Linked DNA regions of Homo sapiens: region 1 is linked to region 2. Evidence: fine-mapped QTL for protein levels in blood plasma. A gene starts in region 2. The other region holds a variant in brackets. All regions are shown on one strand. Distances are between the middles of the regions.

Region 1 (9,508 bases), 15 kb after region 2:
TGTTTATGTAACTGAAAAATATAAATATTTAAATAAAGCAATCAAATTTAGAATATATACTTTCGCTGATCCGAGAATTAATGAAAAAATGGCAAAATATTTATTCTCTTTGAAAAATGACTCAATTGTCATTTAAGAGTTATAACTATTAAAACAAGCCATGACCTTAGTCCTGAATACATATTTGTGTAGGATTGTCTAATGTTGGGACTCAGAAAAACATACCCAAAATGAAGGCCGCAGAAGCAGCCTCAAAACAGAAATTTTTCTCTGACCTTCTCCTACCCTACTATCTCTCAATCCCATTCTCTCTCAAGGCTAGCCATAAAAACTAGAATCTGTCTTACTCAAGGTGGGTCATAGAAACTAGAACCCCTTTACCCAAAGCCAGCCATAAAATCTAAAAATTTTACTCTAACTTTCCCTCCACTATAACTGCACAAAAACTGGCCACTAAAAAATTAGATAACTAGACTTATCTTGTTTGATTATAGGTCATAAGACCCCCATTCCAGAGAGGGCCCTGTGCCATATCCAAAAAAAGGAATACATGCTCAGAGAGGCGAAGAAAAATCTAGACAGACAGACCTTTCTGAGTTTCCCCACTCAGTCTATTAACATTAGATCATATTTTTTGTCCAATCATGTTTCTACTTGCTGCCCATACTTTGTTAAACCTAAACATAAAAATGGACAATTTCCCCTGTATCTTTGGGTCTTAATTTTAAAGGCTCCCATGTACACATTAATAAATATGTATGCCTTTTCTCCTATTAATATGCATCTTATCAGTGATTTTCTGCAAATCTTCGGAAGGCAAAGGGGAAGTTTTCCCTTTTCCCCTATACTAATCTTTAAGGTACATATTCTAACTTTTACAAGAAGCATAAAATCATGTGTGCACGTATATTTCTGTGTATGTGCATGTGTATGTGTGCATGCATGTGCATTGGAAACCTAGGCCCTGGAGCATGACTCCAGAGTGAGAGTAAACAGAAGACAAGCACATGAACAAAGACTGGGAAGATATGCTCAGAATTAACAGTGGTTCCCCTTCAGAATAAACATGATTTTTAGTTCTTCTTTTTATTTTTATGTATTTTCTAGAAAGTCTAGAATAATAATAGCTATCATTTATTGGATGTTTACTATATTCCAGTCATATTCTGTCTTTTATAGGTAATAAATAACACATTTAATCATCACAATAGTCTTTACCCTGTGAGAAAATAGGTACGAAGATGTTAAGTAACTTGACCTATATTCACAGCTAAAAGATAGAGGAGCTGGGATTCAAACCCAATGGTTTCAGAGCTCCAGAGTTTAACTGCAACAATAAACATGAATTTATTTTTCATCATAAATGTGGATAAGTGTGTATGTACATACAAATATATATATATATATATACACACAGACACACATTTATATATGCATGTATATAAAGGCTAGACACATGCATGCTGAGGCTTGGTACATTTAAATAAATGCATAACACCTTAAGTTGAATTCCATTCTCGTGGTTGCTGGAGAATAGTCATTATAACTATTCTTCAAAAGACCTCATTTGCTAGTCTTTTTCAACTGGACAAAGAAGAAACTAGAGTGAGGAGGACAAAGGCTTTGCACAACTTTTCCTACTACTTGACTAGCAGCAGACTCAGGGCTGCTGAGTCTGCAAGCAATAGGAAAGGCTTTGCAGATTCAGATTGCTTTTTGGAGATTACAATTCTGATCGATTTCAGATGGGCATACTGTACAATTATGAAATGCAGATTTGAAATCCTTTTAGTCAAACTTTATCCAGAAAGCAATTTTGAAATCTCTCTCCTCAACAATCTTCTAGCCTCTGTTTGAACACTACCAGGTCAGAAAGCCCACCACTCAGAGTGGGGCCATGTTCTCTTGCTGAGCCTCACATATTCTAAGTAATGGTCTCCTTACACTAATCTGACATCTCTTGGTGCAAGCTCTGTACTCAACAAAGACACTGAAAAATATATAATCCAAAGCTGATGTGGTTCATCACTTTGCACAGCTCCTTCCTTTTTAATTCTACCTATTTTTGTATGTTCCCACTCCACTTACCCTGTGAGATAACAAAGGTAAAGCTAATATTTAAAAGTAACATGTTTCCATGGAAAACAACTGTTTCTTTTGTGCTCTCATAGTCTGGGGTCATCTTATCCTCTTAAATGTTACAGCGTTTAACTATAAGAGTTAAAAACTAGTGCTAAGTAATGGGCCAATAATATTCCTAAAGTGCTGGGATGTACTGCCATAAAACAAACAAGAACCTAGGTATGTAATATTCCAGGATTCTAATTCCCCAACTCTAACTCCAAACCATCAGACCCTGGCCTCCAGCTCATATATCTTTGACTGCTGGACACATCTGACTGCAGAACATCCTGGACCAAACCTTGGCTACTGCTTCTTAGGATGTTCCAGCTTCAACTTTTGATTTACCACACCCTGGGTTCTGGCTCTGCTCATATTTGGCATCTCCTCATGCCTTCTTGACAATATTTGCATATATATTGTCATTATTTCAATTTCAGGACCGACGCAGTTCATGTTCCTGAAGGCTTACCCAGGCAGATGGTATAAATCCAGATCTCCTTCCCACCTGACTTCCCTCCACTCCTCAGCATGGCTCCTTTATTCCAGCCTCAGGGCCTCTCTCACACATGATCAGCATCTAGGGTTCCAATGTACATGCATGCACATGTACACACATACACATGTGCACACGTACACATGCACACACGTACACATGCACACACGCACTGCACCTTTGTTAACACTATCTTCCTGTCACAAATTGCCTTTCCTTCTACTCTCAGATTCAAATCCTAGCACAGAGTTAAAAGTTCAGGCTCTGGAAATCAGATTGCCTGTGTTTGTATCCGGCTTTTCTACATATTAACTAGATGACCTTGGGCAGGTTACTTAACTCTCAATGTCTAGGTTTCCTCAGGCAAAACGAGAATAATAGTAGTACTCATCTGTGGTGGCACTGCTAAATGTCTATTTGATGTCAATTTCCTTCCTTCTTCACCAATATCCAACTCCATAGCTTTTTAGGCAGCTATGTTGTCAGATGAAAGAAAAACAAAAAGCCTTCATTTCTCAACCAGTTATGCCACTGGGTGTCCATGTGATATCGTTCTAACCAACGAGATGGAGTGGAAATCTGAAGTCTGCTAGAAAATCTTAGGAAAGTTTTCCATTTATTTGCACTTGTTGCTTTTGTTGTCTTTCTACTGGGATGCCAGTGCGATGCCTTAAGTGGACCAGTCATTTTATAACCATGGGGCTAAAAAACACACACTGAGCATGATGCAGCTGAAGGTTAGAAGAAGCTAGAAACTTGATGGTTTCTCACGCATTTGTATCAGCCCCAGACTGCCTACTCCTGAACGTTATTATGTGACGAAGGATGAGTCTTTACTTCATTATGCCACTGTGATTATGATATGGACAAGAGGCAGGGAAATACTGGTTAAAAGAGAGCGGTTCCCTGGCAAAGGCCCCATCCTCAAGCCTGGAAACCTGCAGCCCTAAATAGGAACAGGCATTCCTGTTTTCGTGCCAAATGTTGCCTTTTCCAGGACCACCCTGGCCCACCACACCCCCATCCTGTACCCATAAAAACTCCAAACCTCAGGCTCCATGAGCAGAAGAGCAGCAGAGCAGTGTGGCAGAGGAGAGAGGAGAAAGAGTGTCTGAACATCGAGAGGAGTTCGGCTGGGGACTGTCAGAGAGATCAGCCATGGGATGGCCAAACCCCAGGGGAAGATTATCTTCTCACTCCATCCGCTTTCCAGCTCCCCATCCATCCTGCTGAAAGCCTCCTCCATCATTCAATAAAATCTCTGTATTCACCATCCTTCAAGTCTGTAGGACCTGATTCTTCCTGGATGCTAGACAAAGACCCGGGTACCAAGAGGACAGGGCGTAAAAGGCTGCCACCCTGACTCTCCACTGAGCTGGTTTAACACTTAGCCATCCGCGAACAGCAACTGCTAAAAGAGCATTAATTGTAACACACCCCTAGATGCTGCCATGGGGCTAGAGCCCAAAAGCGCTCACCCCGTCTCCTGCACCTGCCTGTCTGTGTGCTCCCCCTCCCTTAAGGGGTTTGAATGTGCAGTGGCCAAGCAAACAAGCCACACCCCTGTTGCAAGTCCCATAAGAGGGTCAGAGAACTCTCCCATTTCAGTCAGGTTTCTGTTACCTAACAGTGTGTATGTGACTGTGAGGGTTGAATAAGAAAACACACATCAATGACTAGCAGAATGCCTGAATAAGTGCTT[A/AT]TAAGAGTGTTAGCTAGAGACTGGGCATGGTGGCTCAGGCCCATAATCCCAGCACTTTGGTAGCCCAAGATGGGCAGATTGCTTGAGCTCAGGAGTTCAAGAACAGGCTGGGTCAATATGACAAACCCCCATCTCTAAAATGTGTATACACACACACACACACACACACACATACATATATACACACACACACACATATATATATAAAGGTTGTTAGCTGGCATTGTTATTTCAAACCTCAAAGCCCCTTTTGTGAGATCTCCCTCCTTAATATGGCACTTAAAATTTGCACTATTCATTGGGCACATATCTTAAGTCCAATTCTCTCCTACTGCTATGTGGTTTTTGTATTGCTGTTAAACTTGTATTTCCTAAGTTTTCCCATAATGCTTATCTGAATTCTATGCATATAGGTGCTACTCACTAAATAAAATATGTATTCAGGAACTTTGAAACTGCTTTGGAAACATTTGAAAGGTTGTATTCTCACATTTCTTGTTTTACTTTATGGCAAGAGTCTTTAAAACTAATAAATTCTCTAGCTGAATTAAACAGCTGATTGTTTTTAATGGAAATATCTAGGTAATGAACTTCTATTTCCTTTTCTTAGCTTTTGATTACTATAGAATTGATACATTATCAAATGGTAGATTTTGAAAAGCTATTAATTCAACATACATTTTAATAGAAGTATTAGCTATATATACAAACTTTATTATGCATCAAATAATACAATGCTTTAATAAGCTACTTTTACCCCAGGAACTGGACTATAAATAGACCTAAAGCTGCAAGAGAAAATAAACTGTCTGTAGTGACTTCTTCACTTGCATAACTTGTACTACATGGCCTCTGAAAAACAACAGGTCCCTCCCCCTTGTCCCACCCTGCGAAGATGCAGGAATAGGGTGGTCCAGGAAATCCTTCCCTCCCTGGATCCTTCAGAGCATTGTTTTAACATATTCCTCTACTATTTGTGTATTTTTAAAATTATACTTCCAGGCTATGAACTTCTAAGGGCCAAGAGTGTGTTTTACTCAGTTTTGTATACTCTACAGCTACCATCATAATACTTGCCACAAAAAAAGGTCCTCAGAAAACATTTATTATGTTTCACTAAACTAAGTTGAGCTGAAATTGGCCAGGAACAAGAACTGGAAATTTATTTGCATCATAGTCAAGGGAAAAAATGTTTCAAAGAGTTAGAGACCTGTTTTCTATCTCCATTTGATGGCTATGTGAAAAGCTCCTTTTTTAATAGATCTGCTCTCCCAAATGATATTTGCTTCCTCCTGTTTCCCAGAAGTCACATAAAAAGATGTATGGCAAAAATCCTCGGGAATCCCAGCAACAGAAGACATGTTGTTTGTAGTGTCTTGGTCACTGTCCTTAGGGTGTGTTTTTCTTAACTGAACAAGTAGTTCTGGAATATCTAAGTGCTGATATCGTTCTAAACACTTGAAAATACATCGCTATCCTTATAGAGCTTATAGTTCAATGCTAGAATGAATGTCAGTAAGTGTTAAATAGCAAAGAATAGAAAAATAGAGAAGTCACCCAGTTCATAGAATTTGGCAAAAGCTTCCCTGGGGAGGTAAAAATTAGCAGCAATTATAAAGAAGTGTAAAACTTAACCAGGTGGAATTGGAGGCAGATGAAAGAGCACGTGCAAGGACATGGTAGGAGGGAGGAGGACAGATTGAAGGAAATGAGCAAAGCCTATGTAGCTGGAGCCAAAGGTAAGCAATGAAATAGGAAACATGTACAGAGGCTACACCATGCCAGGCCATGTAGACTTTGTGGGAGTTTGTGTGTAACATGATCAGATTTGTATTTTAAAAGATTCCTTTGGTGCACAGTGAGGGATGCATTGAAAGGCAGCAAAGCAGCCATGTGTATCATGGGTAGTCCAGAAAACCTCAAAAGGCCAACTTCTGCCTTTTCAACCATCAGCTTTCTTCTTACAGATACCCAGTACAGATACTTTTTTTTAACTTTTAAGTTCAGGGGTACAAGAGCACGTTTGTTACACAGGTAAACTTGTGTCATGGGGGTTTGTTGTAGAGACTATTTCATCACCCATGTATTAAGCCTAGTCCATTAGTTATTTTTCCTGATCCTCTCCTTCCTTCCACCCTCCACCCTCCAATAAGCCTCAGTGTCTGTTGTTCCCCTCTATGTGTCCGTGTGTTCTCATCATTTAGCTCCCACTTATAAGTGGGAACATGAAGTATATGGTTTTCTGTTGCTGTGTTAGTTTGCTAAAAATAACAGCCTCCAGCTCCATCCATGTTCCTGCAAAGGACATGATCTCATTGTTTTTTATGGCAGTATAGTATTCCATGGTGTATATGCACCACATTTTCTTTATCCAGTCTATCATCGATGGGCATTTAGGCTGATTTTATGTCTTTATAAAAGAAGCCTAGTGGGGCCATTTTTGCACTGAGTCAGAATAGTTTGGGGTCGGACTCAATTTTAAAGTGTTGCTCTAAAGTTGTTGCCAGATTCAATATTTAGGAAGACTCAAAATTCATGTCTTACCATCTTGGTGACCACAATTGTATATTATGCTTGGTTTTGTGTCCTGAGAAAAGGAAGCCAATTTTTTTCCCTTAAAGTAATGCAATTTAGAGTCTCTACAAACAGTAAGAAGTGACTGATATGAGAAAAGAGTCAAGAGTCTTATGAGGATTATGTTTGTGTATGTTTAAGTTAAGGAATTTGTGAGTTGGCATGACAGCCTGCGGGAAAACAGCTTCATGATTGTCTTTCTGTCAGAAGCAATTTTCAGCAGGCTCCCATCTTCCTCGGCTTCCACTGTCAGTGCCAAGACACAGCCCCTCAGGCCTGGGGCCAGGTAACCATAAGACTTCAGTCAAATCTTCTTTGCATTTTCTCTGAGAAAAGCCTGCAGTTTCTTTTCTTGATCTTAGTCCAAGGGTAAGGTTTTCTGGAAAGTTTGAAAAGAAATTTATGCCTAGCGGTTGGAGGCCTATAGAAAGGGAAAGCAGTATGTTCCTATACGGCTATTTTTATTTTTTTGGCTGGAGAAAGCTACAGGAAGCAGCCTTGTAATCAATTGCTTTGGCATACCTGAGCCCTTGCAGGATGCACATTGGCTATTTCGTACTCACACAAAGAATATTACTTAGTACAATACTGACACCAGGAAAGCTGAATCTATATAAGATAGTAAAAGATGCTAAGCAACAAAACTGGCTATATTCCTTCATTTATTTATTCATTTATTTCTAAATAAATGAGCATTGATTAAGCAGCCACACTGTGCTAGGTAATGGGAATTACAGTGTCATTGATTTCACTAGGGTGGCACCAGGATAAATATCTTGTGAGCTCAGAGATCTAGATCACCGAAAATGAAGGCCACAGTGCAGACCTTAGTTCAAGCCATCAGGTTAGACTTGGCTTAGACTGAGTTCTCACAGTATTTTGGAGAAATAGGTCTTCCTGGGGTCCAGACAGTGTCCCCATCCTGGTAATGCCTAGGGCATGGGTATATCTGACCTCTACTGCTGAAATGGGCCCAATATTCTCATAGACAGTTGTTTTTGGGTAAACATAGAAATTGACCCTTCTTCTGTTTTTTTTTTAATTGTTGTTGGGTTTTGTTTGTTTGTTTGTTTTTGAGATGGAGTTTCACTCTTGTTGCCGATGCTGGAGTGCAATGGCGCAATCTCGGCTAACCGCAACCTCCGCCTCACGGGTTCAAGTGATTCTCCTGCCTCAGCCTCCTGAGTAGCTGGGATTACAGGCATGTGCCACCACATTTGGCTAATTTTGTATTTTTAGTAGAGACAGGGTTTCTCCATGTTGGTCAGGCTAGTCTCAAACTCCCGACCTCAGGTGATCCACCTGCCTTGGCCTCCCAAAGTGCTGGGATTACAGGCGTGAGCCACTGTGCCCAGCCCCTTCTGCTGTTAAAGCTTGAAACTTGTATTTGTTTTATCTGAGTTCCTTCCTCAGGAAAGGACCCTCAGGCCTCTCAAAAAAAAAAAAAGTAGTAGTTTCTGTTTTCTTACACATTGTTACATTTCTCTCTTGCTATATAAACCCCTAGTTTTAGTCAGTTAGGGAGATGAATTTGAGGCTGAGCTTTCATCTCCTCAGCTACAGCACTCAGTTAAAGCCTTCTTTCTAGGCAATAATCGTCATCTCAGTGGTTGGCTTTCTGTGTGGCAAGCAGCAGGACCTAGCCTGAACCCCTGGTTTTTCAGTAACAGTGCTACTTTCTGACTTGCTATCTGAGCTCCTGGAATCAGCTCTCAAGATGCAGGCTACATTTGTCCCAGAAGCCTTGCTGTGAGTTTACGTGCCTACAGAGTCCCATTAATGGACCTAGTGCCAGCTACCCAAGTACCAGAGGCTCTAAACCCCATTAAAAATGTACATGTGTTTGTGTCTGCCGACCTACTTCCCTCCCTACCTACCTAACTGCCTGTCTCCCTCATATCATATCGCTATGACAATAGGAAAAACTGAAGCTGTGGTGGTATTTGGAGAAGAGAATCTGGATGATAGCTTGGAGGGAGACCTTGCCCTGTGTGTCTTTGGTCTTTTTTGTATTCCTTAAGAGCACATCTCCTTCTAGCTTCAGCTCATTTACTCCTTTTGCAGCAAAGTGTCTCAAGTTTCTGTCTTCATGACTCCTTTCTACGTCTTCCTTTGTATAAGTTGCCAATGGCTTTTATGTTACTAACTCCAACGATCAGTTTTCTATCTTCTTATGATTACTTATCAGTATCTGACTCAATAAACTCTTTAGTTTTTCTTAACCAGTGTCTTCATTCGGCTTCTGGGACACTATACTTGAATGGTTTTATTTTCTCTTCTCTCATTGTTCCTTCTCAGTCTCCCTTGTTAGCTCTTCTTCTTTTGTTTGACATCTGCATTTTGGATTGTCCCAGGGATCTGTCTTGGGTTCTTATCTCTATCTACACATGCTGTCTACATGGCTTTATTCATATTTATGACCTAACACCATCGATGTATTAGTGATAGCAAGTTTATATCTCTAGTACTACCTCACTTCTGCTGACTCACCATCTCCAGATGGATGTCCGGAGGCATCTCAAACATAACATATCTAGATCAGGAGTTATGACTTCCTTGTGGTCACTCAAAACCTGATTTTCTCCCAGTGTTCCCCCATCTTGGTACTATATCCA
Region 2 (9,508 bases):
ATATATGAGGAAGTCATCTTTGCTTCCATTTAAAAGAGTCCAGACATCTGTTTGGTTTTCTTCTTGTTGATAAACAGGAATATGCTCTGAAACCTTATTCTTAAGATGTGTGTATTTTAATCGAGAAGAGATTCCTTGATGATTAACAACAATATAAGAAATATTAGAATATCCTTCTTTCTTCAGTTTTACTCGCAGGTCTTCTAATCTAAAATATTTGGGAAGAAATACATAAAATGAATAATCTCATTTGATTTGATTAGTGGTTTTTCTCCCTCTTCCTTAATTTTCTATGTGAAACTCTCCTTCTTATTTTTAACTAACCCATACTGCACCTATTCTTTATATTGCTGTAAAAGATTTTAAAACTTTCATTTTTAGAATTACTTAAAACTTGTGCTTAATTAAAACCTTATGCTTAAACAAACATTGGTTTAGTTCTCAAATTAGCACGATGAAGTGTATATATTTTGAATGTATCTTATAGGTAGAATGGATTCAACCAACCACAGATAAAAAATGGTTGGAAAAAAAAAGATGGCTGCATCTATAGTAGTGAACATGTAGACTTTTTTTCTTGTCATTCATTATTCACTAAATACAGTATAAAAATTCCTTACATAGCATTTACATTGTGTTAGGTATTATAAGTAATCTAGAGATGATTAAAGCATATGAAAGTATATGCATAGGTTATACATGCCATTTTATATAAAGGATTTGAGCTCCATGGATTTTGGTGTATGAGGGGGATCCTGGAACCAATCCTGCACAGATACCACTGGATGACTGTAAGGAGAATTCCACCCAGTGAATATCTGGTGAATAACTCAACAAATATTTTTTATATTTATTTGTTAAATAACCCAAGACTTTGATAGCAAGCCTAGTGTTCTTTCTACTCTGACAAAACAGTCTTCTCTGCCTCTTGTATTGAAGTAACTGTTCTATTTGCAGAAGTACATTTTAGAGCATTTTCATTACACAAGTAATACATATTTAGTAGGAAGTTATAAAATATAGGTGCACAAAAAGAAGAAAAAATTTCCATAACCCTAGGAAACCCACTGTAAACATTTTGGTGTGTATCATCCTAGTTTCTCTCTTCTAATATGTTCTATGCAAACACATAGTTTTTCTAAAAGTGTGACTTAATACATTATTTACACTTTTATTTTATGTCTATATGCGTGTGTGTATTTAATAGCCTTCCCCTTAAGGTATTTTAAGCCACAGAAAGACTGTCTTACTTAGATGCCTGCAGTATGCACAGGTATCAGCTGGCTTGAAGAAGAGCAACCACAGTCACTGAACCATTGGAGTTTAGCATTGGATCTTGATCTCTTATGCTCCAGGCTGGGGGTTGCTTACATAAGGAGCTTTGGTCCTGGCTCTCTGTTCCTCCCGATGGGAGGAGACAGAGAGCCAGGGCAAGCCCCAGGCTTCTCCACATTGCTGGGGTTGTCCTGTAAAAGAGAAAACCTGTCACTCTTCTTCATAGTTAACTTCACAGTCCTAACTATGAATTTCTATAAATCCTGCAGACATAATTCCACTTCCTAAAAATACCTAGCCCATGAATTCTGTCTCCAGAAAGTTATGTTCAGACTGTGGCTTATAAAAATAAGTCTGTGACTTATGTAACATTCTGCAAACACAACCTAACTTTTGTTTGAGACACACCAAGTTCTGACTGTTCTTTCTATCCTCCAAGAAGAAAGGGATAGGCCGGGTGTGGTGGCTCACGCCTGTAATCCCAGCACTTTGGGAGGCCGAGGCTGGCAGATCACGATGTCAGGAGATCGAGACCATCCTGGCTAACACGGTGAAACCCCTTCTCTACTAAAATTATACAAAAAAAAAAAAAAAATTAGCCAGGCTTGGTGGCAGACACCTGTAGTCCCAGCTACTCAGGAGGCTGAGGCAGGAGAATGGTGTGAACCCGGGCGGTGGAGCTTGCAGTGAGCTGAGATCGCGCCCCTGCACTCCAGCCTGGGCGACAGAACGAGACTCTGTCTCAAAAAAAAAAAAACAAAAGAAGAAGAAGAAAGGGATAAATAGAGCATTCTGCACAGAAATGAAAAGAGCCAGCAAAAAAAGAGAACCAAGGAAAAAAGATGATGGCAGAAAAGACAGTATACCAACATGAATGTGGCTCATGTCGGGCCCTTAGCTCTTCAAGTTCAAACATTCTATATTTATCTCTTGGGTATGGCTCCCTTTTGTTTCTCTTATTCCTTGAAGTCTGGCTGTATGTATCTAACCAAGTAGAAATATCACACATCTGCCCCCTCTACCATTTAAGACTCTTTGAAATCCACACTCAATTAGCCTATTTATTGGAAAGTTCCTATGACTAGAAAATTCCTATGACTAGACAGCACTTTCTTTGGTAAAAAGATGCTTCCTCTGAGCAACGAAATTAAAATGCTTTTAAATACCTGACTAGAAATATCCTCAAAACTAGGGCTAGCTCTCTAAACAGAAATGTTCAAAAACAGGTGAACTGTAGACAGGTGATAAAGAAAAAGGAACACATTCAGCAGAGAGGAGCAAAGAAAAATCCTCACAAGTAATTCAGGCTCATTTTGATGTAAGAATCTGTGGGGAGAGATCAGGACAAAATTTGAAAACTGGGAAATCAATATATTTTCAAGCACTGATTTGAAATTTTTAAAAGCAGATGCATTTCTTTGGAGGTGGGGAGCTAATGGTAAATTACTTAGAGTGAGCCCAGAATTAAGAGAAGAATAGAAAAGTTAAAATCAGATTGATCTGGGCTTTAATGCACTGGTAGATATAGATAGAATTTTTAACCCTGATTGTCTTTCACATTATTTAACACATCAAAACTCTTACCTATATATGATATCTTGATAAGAACTTAACTAGAGAGAGTGAGGTGAGAGAGGTAGAGAGAGAGGACAAATTAACTTACTTATTTAAGGCCACTCCAACTACTTATTTTAATATTTAAAATATTCTAATATTTTAAGAAGAAGAAGAAGATATATTTGGACTGTTTCTAGAAAATTCCTCTAGAATGGTATTTACAATGATAATACAATTATCCTTATTATAGCTAATGTTTATTTAACTTTTATACAAATATATTCAGGTGGCACTAAGCACTTTTATATATCATGTCAGTTAATCCTTAAAACAATTATGTGACCATTATCCCCTTTTGCAGTTGAGAAAAACCATGGCTAAGAGTTTAGGTAACTTGTCTATGATCACACAGAGAGAAAGTCAGTCACAAAAGAGACTGGATTAAAACTAGTTCTGTCAAATCCTAAGCTACATCTTAGCTACTGCAATATATTGAGAGTTTTTAGATAGATCACCTTGTAATAACTATAGCCGCCAACTATTTTTGTTTATGCACTAAGATGCCAAAGAAAACATAAAAATAATTCAAGCTGTTTTATTTCTTAATAGAAAGGCTAGGTTTTCTCTGTTTCCTAGACCACAAATTCAGTAGTTACAGAACCTTGGCAAAAAATCAGCACTTGGTTTTTTCACTTTGCCACAGAGCACATATTTATTTATCTATTTATTTATTTATTTATTTTTTGAGACGGAGTCTTGCTCTGTTACCCAGGCTGGAGTGCAATGGCGCAATCTCAGCTCACTGCAAACTTCGCCTCCCGGGTTCAAGCAATTCTCCTACCTCACCCTCCCAAGTAGCTGGGATTACAGGCTCTCGCCACCACGTCCTGCTAATTTTTTTATTTTTAGTAGAGACGGGGTTTCACCATGTTGGCCAGGCTGGTCTTACACTCCTCACCTCGTGATCCGCCTGCCTTGGCCTCCCAAAGTGCTGGGATTACAAGCGTGAGCCACCGCGTCCAGCCCAGAGCACATATTGCAAGTAGCTGAATGGTGAATACAAATGAAAAGACTGTTTCACTCATTTCCCTCATTTAGGTTTATGATGAAAAAATAACCCATTGGCAGAGAGTTGTAGCTTAAGAGTTCACACTTTCGGATTTCTTCTGTCATTATAATCAACAGGCTGCTCAATTTTGTTTTCTTAAAATTATTTCTTACACCGTAAACCTTTGATAATTATAGTTGTCAGACAGCTATATAAAAATAATGAAGATAAATAACAAAATTGGGTTTCCTGGAAGCTGATCCAATAAGAATTGAAAAGTAGTTGTAAATTTCACTATGTCACCACTTTTCAATTGCGAAACTTAAATTTCATGGCCACATTCAGACCTACATTTATTTAAAATTACTCATTAAAAAGCAGGATATGTACAAACTTTCTCTGTCCTCCACCTCTGAACTTTAGGCCAGCATCTGAAAGCCCCTAATTCACCTGAATGCTCTCATTCACCATTTAAAATACAAAAGTTTGCATTTAATCACAGACCACCTAATTGTTGACATGGGTTTTAGCTTCTTTAAGGGTGACCACTTCTGCACTGTGGACTGAACCTACTGTACCCCATTCCACCACTTTTTCTTCTGAAACTGCTCACAATATCCCTGGACATTTCTACAACACTAGAATGAGCATATTTCAGTGTCTGCTCTTCAAATCCAAATGGCTGGGTTTTTTCCCTGTTTGTTCTTACTCTGCCCTTCAGTGGAAAATATTTAAATTTGAACATATAATACTGCCTATGTAACATCACAACAGATTATAGAATAAAAGGTTTGGATTTCTCCAGCTTCCTCTGCTCTCAGCTGTGCAGAAGACAGGGCAGAAATCAAGAACTGACAAATGTGCGCACTGGGAACTTCACCTACCACACCTAAGTTCAGACTCTTCTTATTCTTTTTCTCTTTTATTATTTTTATTTCCTCTATCCACCAGTTTTCTGAATCTATTCTATGGAAAAAAACAATTTATCAGACTCAAAAAATATTTACCAAACTTTAAAAGAATAAAGTATCAGAAAACACGAAGTTCCTACTTACACAACCACTTCCAACGGGCCTGCTTCCTTTCTCTTTGCTTTACTCTGGCAGCTCCACAAAGCCACAGCAGCACACTCTGATATTTATAGTCCTGTTGTTTACCTCACCCCTCAGGTATAGTCCAAAGTTCAATGTTCATTCTTGCAGTGACCTTGCAAGCAGAGCAAACCCCTGAGCTGATTGTTATCAACTTAAAAGAAAGTAGCAAGTGCTGCCATGCATAATATGGGGAAAACATTTTGACAATTACTAATTTATTCCCTATCCTTTTCAGTCACCCTAGAATCTAGGATTTAATGGTACAGTCGGGGGCGGGAGGAAGGGCTAAGGGTAAACAAGGCCTCCAAGTTGCCTTCTTTCCCAAACTATAACAGGGAAAAACATTTGCTGAGCCAGCGAATTATGCTGCTGCTTTAAAAAAAAAAAAAAAAGAGAGAGAGAAGCTTTTTTTTCCTTTTGTTTTGCTTCTTGCAGTGATGAGGTGCTAGCTTAGCCCACACAGTGTGACCTTTGTTAGAAAAGTCACCTGCTGTTACAAGTTACTCTGGTCTCCTGTTGTTACAGACTTACACGTCGATTGTGTTCTATGTTTATAACTTGAATTCATATGGGATTTCACAGGACCACTGCTCTTTTCTTGTTAATTTAAGGAAATAGAAAAATAGACTTCCTATCTGAGGGAAATCAGACCTCATTTTTATTGTCACTGAAGTCGTACTTCCTGGAAGACCTATGCATCCCCAGAATTTTTTGAGGATCGAATATAAAATCTTTACAAATGTGAATACCATAAAAATAAAAATTAAAGGTAGTAGTTGGACATGGAAAGAGTGTGGAAATTTCAAGATGTACAAATGAAATAGCTAATTCCTACTATTTCAGAAGAGGGTATTTTCTTTCTGGTAACGCTTGTAAGTTGGCATGCTCACTGTAGGTGAGGTAAGGAGCAATGTCAAATGATGTCATTCCTAGATAGCAATGGTTTTCGAGTAGGCCTTGCTTTTTTCATCAATTAATTTTTTTCCAAATAATCCCCCACTGATTGCTGTATGCTGAATACTGTTGTACAAGGTGCAGGAACTACAAAGAGACTCAGATGTTATCCTTCCTTTCAAGAAACTTCCTATCAAATTAGGAGGTTACCATTTGAAATCCAAGTTCTCTTTACTTGCCCTGAGCAGTTGTTACTTGCCTTTTGGGGTCCCATATCTCTTTGAGAATCCAGTTAAAATGCACATATACATAATCATTTTTTTAAAGAGTGTCATTAAAAAAATCTTTGTACAAAGCAGATATTCCTCCCTGTAGTTCATTTCCTTGACCAATTTAAGTAGTCATATTGAGGAAAGAGAGAGACCCTCTCATATTGTTTTATACTCAGTACCTGTTTTAAGGAAAAAAAAAAACAAGGATGTGAAATCAAAGACAGGCAGCCCGGTGCCAGGCCCAAACCAGGCCTGGGCCTGCCTGGCCTAAACCCAGTAGTTAAAAATCAATTCATAACTTCGAAACCGATGTTATTCATAGATTCCAGACATTGTACAGAAGAACACTGTGAAACTCCCTGCCCTGTTCTGTTTCTCTCTGACCACCGGTGCACGCAGCCCTTGTCATGTACCCCTTGCTTGCTCCAATCAATCACAACCCTTACATGTGAAATCTTTAGTATTGTGAGCCTTTAAAAGGGACAGAAATTGTGCACTCGGGGAGCTCGGATTTTAAGGCAGTGGCTTGCCCACGCTCCCAGCTGAATAAAGCCCTTCTTTCTACAACTCAGTGTCTGAAAGGTTTTGTCTGCAGCTCGTCCTGCTACATTTCTTGGTTCCCTGACCAGGAAACGAGGTAACTGATAGACATAGACGGCAGAGCTAACCCGTTAGGCGGCTTAGGCCTGTCCTGTGGAGCGTCCCTGCAGGGGACTCCAGTCAGCCTGAGTGACGCGATCCAAAGAACGCTCCCGGGTAGGAAATTGCCCCGGTGGAATGCCTTGCCAGAGCAGCGCATAGCAGGCCCCTGCAGAGGATTAACACGGTGGCTGAACACCGGAAAGAACTGGCACTTGGAGTCGCGACATCTGAAACTTGGTAAGACTAGTCTTTGGAACTTGCCCCACTCCATCTGAGTGGAAGTGTGGCCTGATCACCCACGGCGTGCCTGTATTGGCACTTTTGTTCTGGTTTTGACTTGGCTTGACTTGGTAAGACTAGTCTTTGGAACTTGCCCCACTCCATCTGAGTGGAAGTGTGGCCTGATCACCCACAGCGTGCCTGCATTGGCACTTTTGTTCTGGTTTTGACTTGGCTTGACTTGGTAAGACTAGTCTTTGGAACTTGCCCCACTCCATCTGAGTGGAAGTGTGGCCTGATCACCCACAGCGTGCCTGCATTGGCACTTTTGTTCTGGTTTTGACTTGACTTGAATTGCTGGATACTTTGGTTTTGATTTTGACTTGGCTTGAATTTTTTGGTACTCGGATTTTGAATTTCGTGATTTTGGTTTGGTATAAACGGTAAAAGTGTGTGTGCAGCCTCTTTACCCGTTCTTTTTCTTGTGGTGAGTGTGTGTGGTGTGAGCGTGGTATTTTGTCTCGGAAAAAAAACATGGGTCAGGCACAAATAAGCCCACCCCACTAGGAACTATGTTAAAAGAAAATTTTCAAGAAAGAATTTAAGGGAGATTACGGTGTTACTGTGACACCAGGAAAACTTAGAACTTTGTGTGAAATAGACTGGCCAGCATTAGAGGTGGGTTGGCCATCAGAAGGAAGCCTGGACAGGTCCTTTGTTTCAAAGGTATGACACAAGGTAACCTGTAAGCCAAGGCACCCAGACCAGTTTCAGTACATAGACAATTACAGCTGCTTTTAGACCCCCTTCCCCGCTACAGTAGTTAAGAGAACAGCAGCATAAGCGGCTGGCAGAGGCAAGGAAAGACCAGCAGAGAGAAAAAGAGGCCATCTATACCAATTCTAAGTTAATTTAGACTAAACAAGGTCTTATTAATAGCAAAGGATAATTGAAATCCCAAACTTACAAGGTTTTCAACAAAAGTGAAGTTTGCTAAAAGTTAACAGTGTAACATGTATTATGGTAACTTCTAATCTTGTGGCCTTAGACTGTCTAGTCCAAAGACATAAAGAAAGTTCGCTTTAAAAAAAAAAAAAAGGAATGGTTATCTTAAAAAAAAAACAGGAAAAAAAAAAGGGGGGGAGGCAGAATTTATGTAAAAAGAGTGTTATAAGGTAAATTCTTCTCCTAAAATAAATTAACTGGTTGTTAAAAAAAAAACACTGTTTGTAATAAGTCAGAAAGTTGAGACATGTTAAAAAATTGTCTGCGAAAGTCGTAAAAGAAAATGTTATAAAAAAATTTTTATGCAAAAAATGTTGTATAATTTAAAAGTAATAAGGCCTCCTGAGTACTATTAAAGAAACTGTTTATGTACAAGGTGTATAAGAAAAGTAAAATATAACTTTGGTAAAAAAAATTATAAGGAGGCATAAGAATTAATTTTTACCTACATTAAAAGGTTAAAAAAATTATTGTTTTAACAGTTTAAGCAAGTTTTAAAATATTAATTTTAAAGAAAATTCTGTGGGTAAACATATTAGCTAAAGTTAAAAAGGTATCATCCAGTTTTTCTGTGAACTGGACATTAAAGTAAAAATGCAACAGGTTTTTCTTAAAGCATCAACTTGCTCTTTAACAAAAATTATAAAAGATTAAAAAGAGTCTATAAAATCTTACCTTATGGTCAAACATAAAAAATTGGATAAATATGTCTACAAGGTTTTATTAAAATTAAGTTTAACATTAATAACACACTAATAAAAAGGTAAAACTTAACTCATCTGGTATAGAAATCATACAAGAAGCATTATTAAATATAAAATGGTGTTTAGCTTTCTTTGATTTAAAAACTAATAAAAATTGGTGCTGAAGGAAACATTCATTTTACTAGAGGATCATAGAAGTTGAAGACTTAAAACAAACTTTGGCAATTAAGACAGCATACCAAGATGCAAATGCCTGGTTGGAATGGATCAAATATTCCATCTGCACATTAAACAAAAGCAATTGTTATGCTTGTGCACATGGCAGGCCAGAGGCCCTGATTGTCCCCCTTCCACTAAGGTGGTCCTTCAGTTGACCAGGTGTGGGCTGCATGTAGCTCTTTTCCAGGATTCTGCAGCCAGGAGTAATAAGTCATGCCAAGCTCTCTCTGCTATATCCCGAAGTCCCTGCCAGTCAGCCCCCGAGGGCCATCCAGCTTCCGTCTCCCAACACTAAGTTCACTTCTTGTCTCTCACAGCAGGGAGGAGACTTAGCATTCCTTGTAGACCTGAAGGGATGCAGTGAGCTTAAGAATTTTCAAGAGCTTATCAATCTGTCTTCCCTTGTTCATCCCTGAGCAGATGTGTGGTGGTATTGTGGTGGACCTTTACTGGGCACTCTGCCGAATAACTAGAGTGGCACTTGTCCTTTAGTCCATTTGGCTATCCCTTTCACCCTGGCATTTCATCAACCAGAGGAAAAAAAATAATAATAAGACATCATAAAGCAAGAGAAGCCCC

Alleles and levels. Alleles are on the strand shown, and positions count from the first base shown. The strength of an association depends on the size of the effect and on how common the allele is.
With allele A in place of AT in region 1, the plasma level of the protein whose gene starts at base 4,992 in region 2 is higher (weak association).

What was found. A credible set is the group of variants that fine-mapping cannot tell apart. PIP is the posterior inclusion probability: the model's chance that the variant is causal. The UK Biobank Pharma Proteomics Project read protein levels with antibody pairs (Olink). The fine-mapping took linkage between variants from a reference panel, not from the people measured, so its PIPs are less certain.
Region 1: its variant is the best candidate, but not a certain one, in a credible set for the plasma level of the SELENOP protein (UK Biobank, PIP 0.51).

What each region holds. Positions count from the first base shown.
Region 1 is chr5:42,821,776-42,831,283 of GRCh38, forward strand. No RefSeq gene overlaps it. Among named protein-coding and RNA genes, the nearest start is that of SELENOP, 15 kb to the left of the region's middle. The variant A/AT (reference allele first, on the strand shown) is at 4,320.
Region 2 is chr5:42,806,901-42,816,408 of GRCh38, forward strand. It overlaps SELENOP (selenoprotein P), which reads right to left and starts at 4,992. Exons shown (of 5, transcript NM_005410.4): 1 at 4,936-4,992; 2 at 1,251-1,466; 3 at 1-208. The coding sequence starts at 1,453. RefSeq lists an enhancer at 5,151-5,716.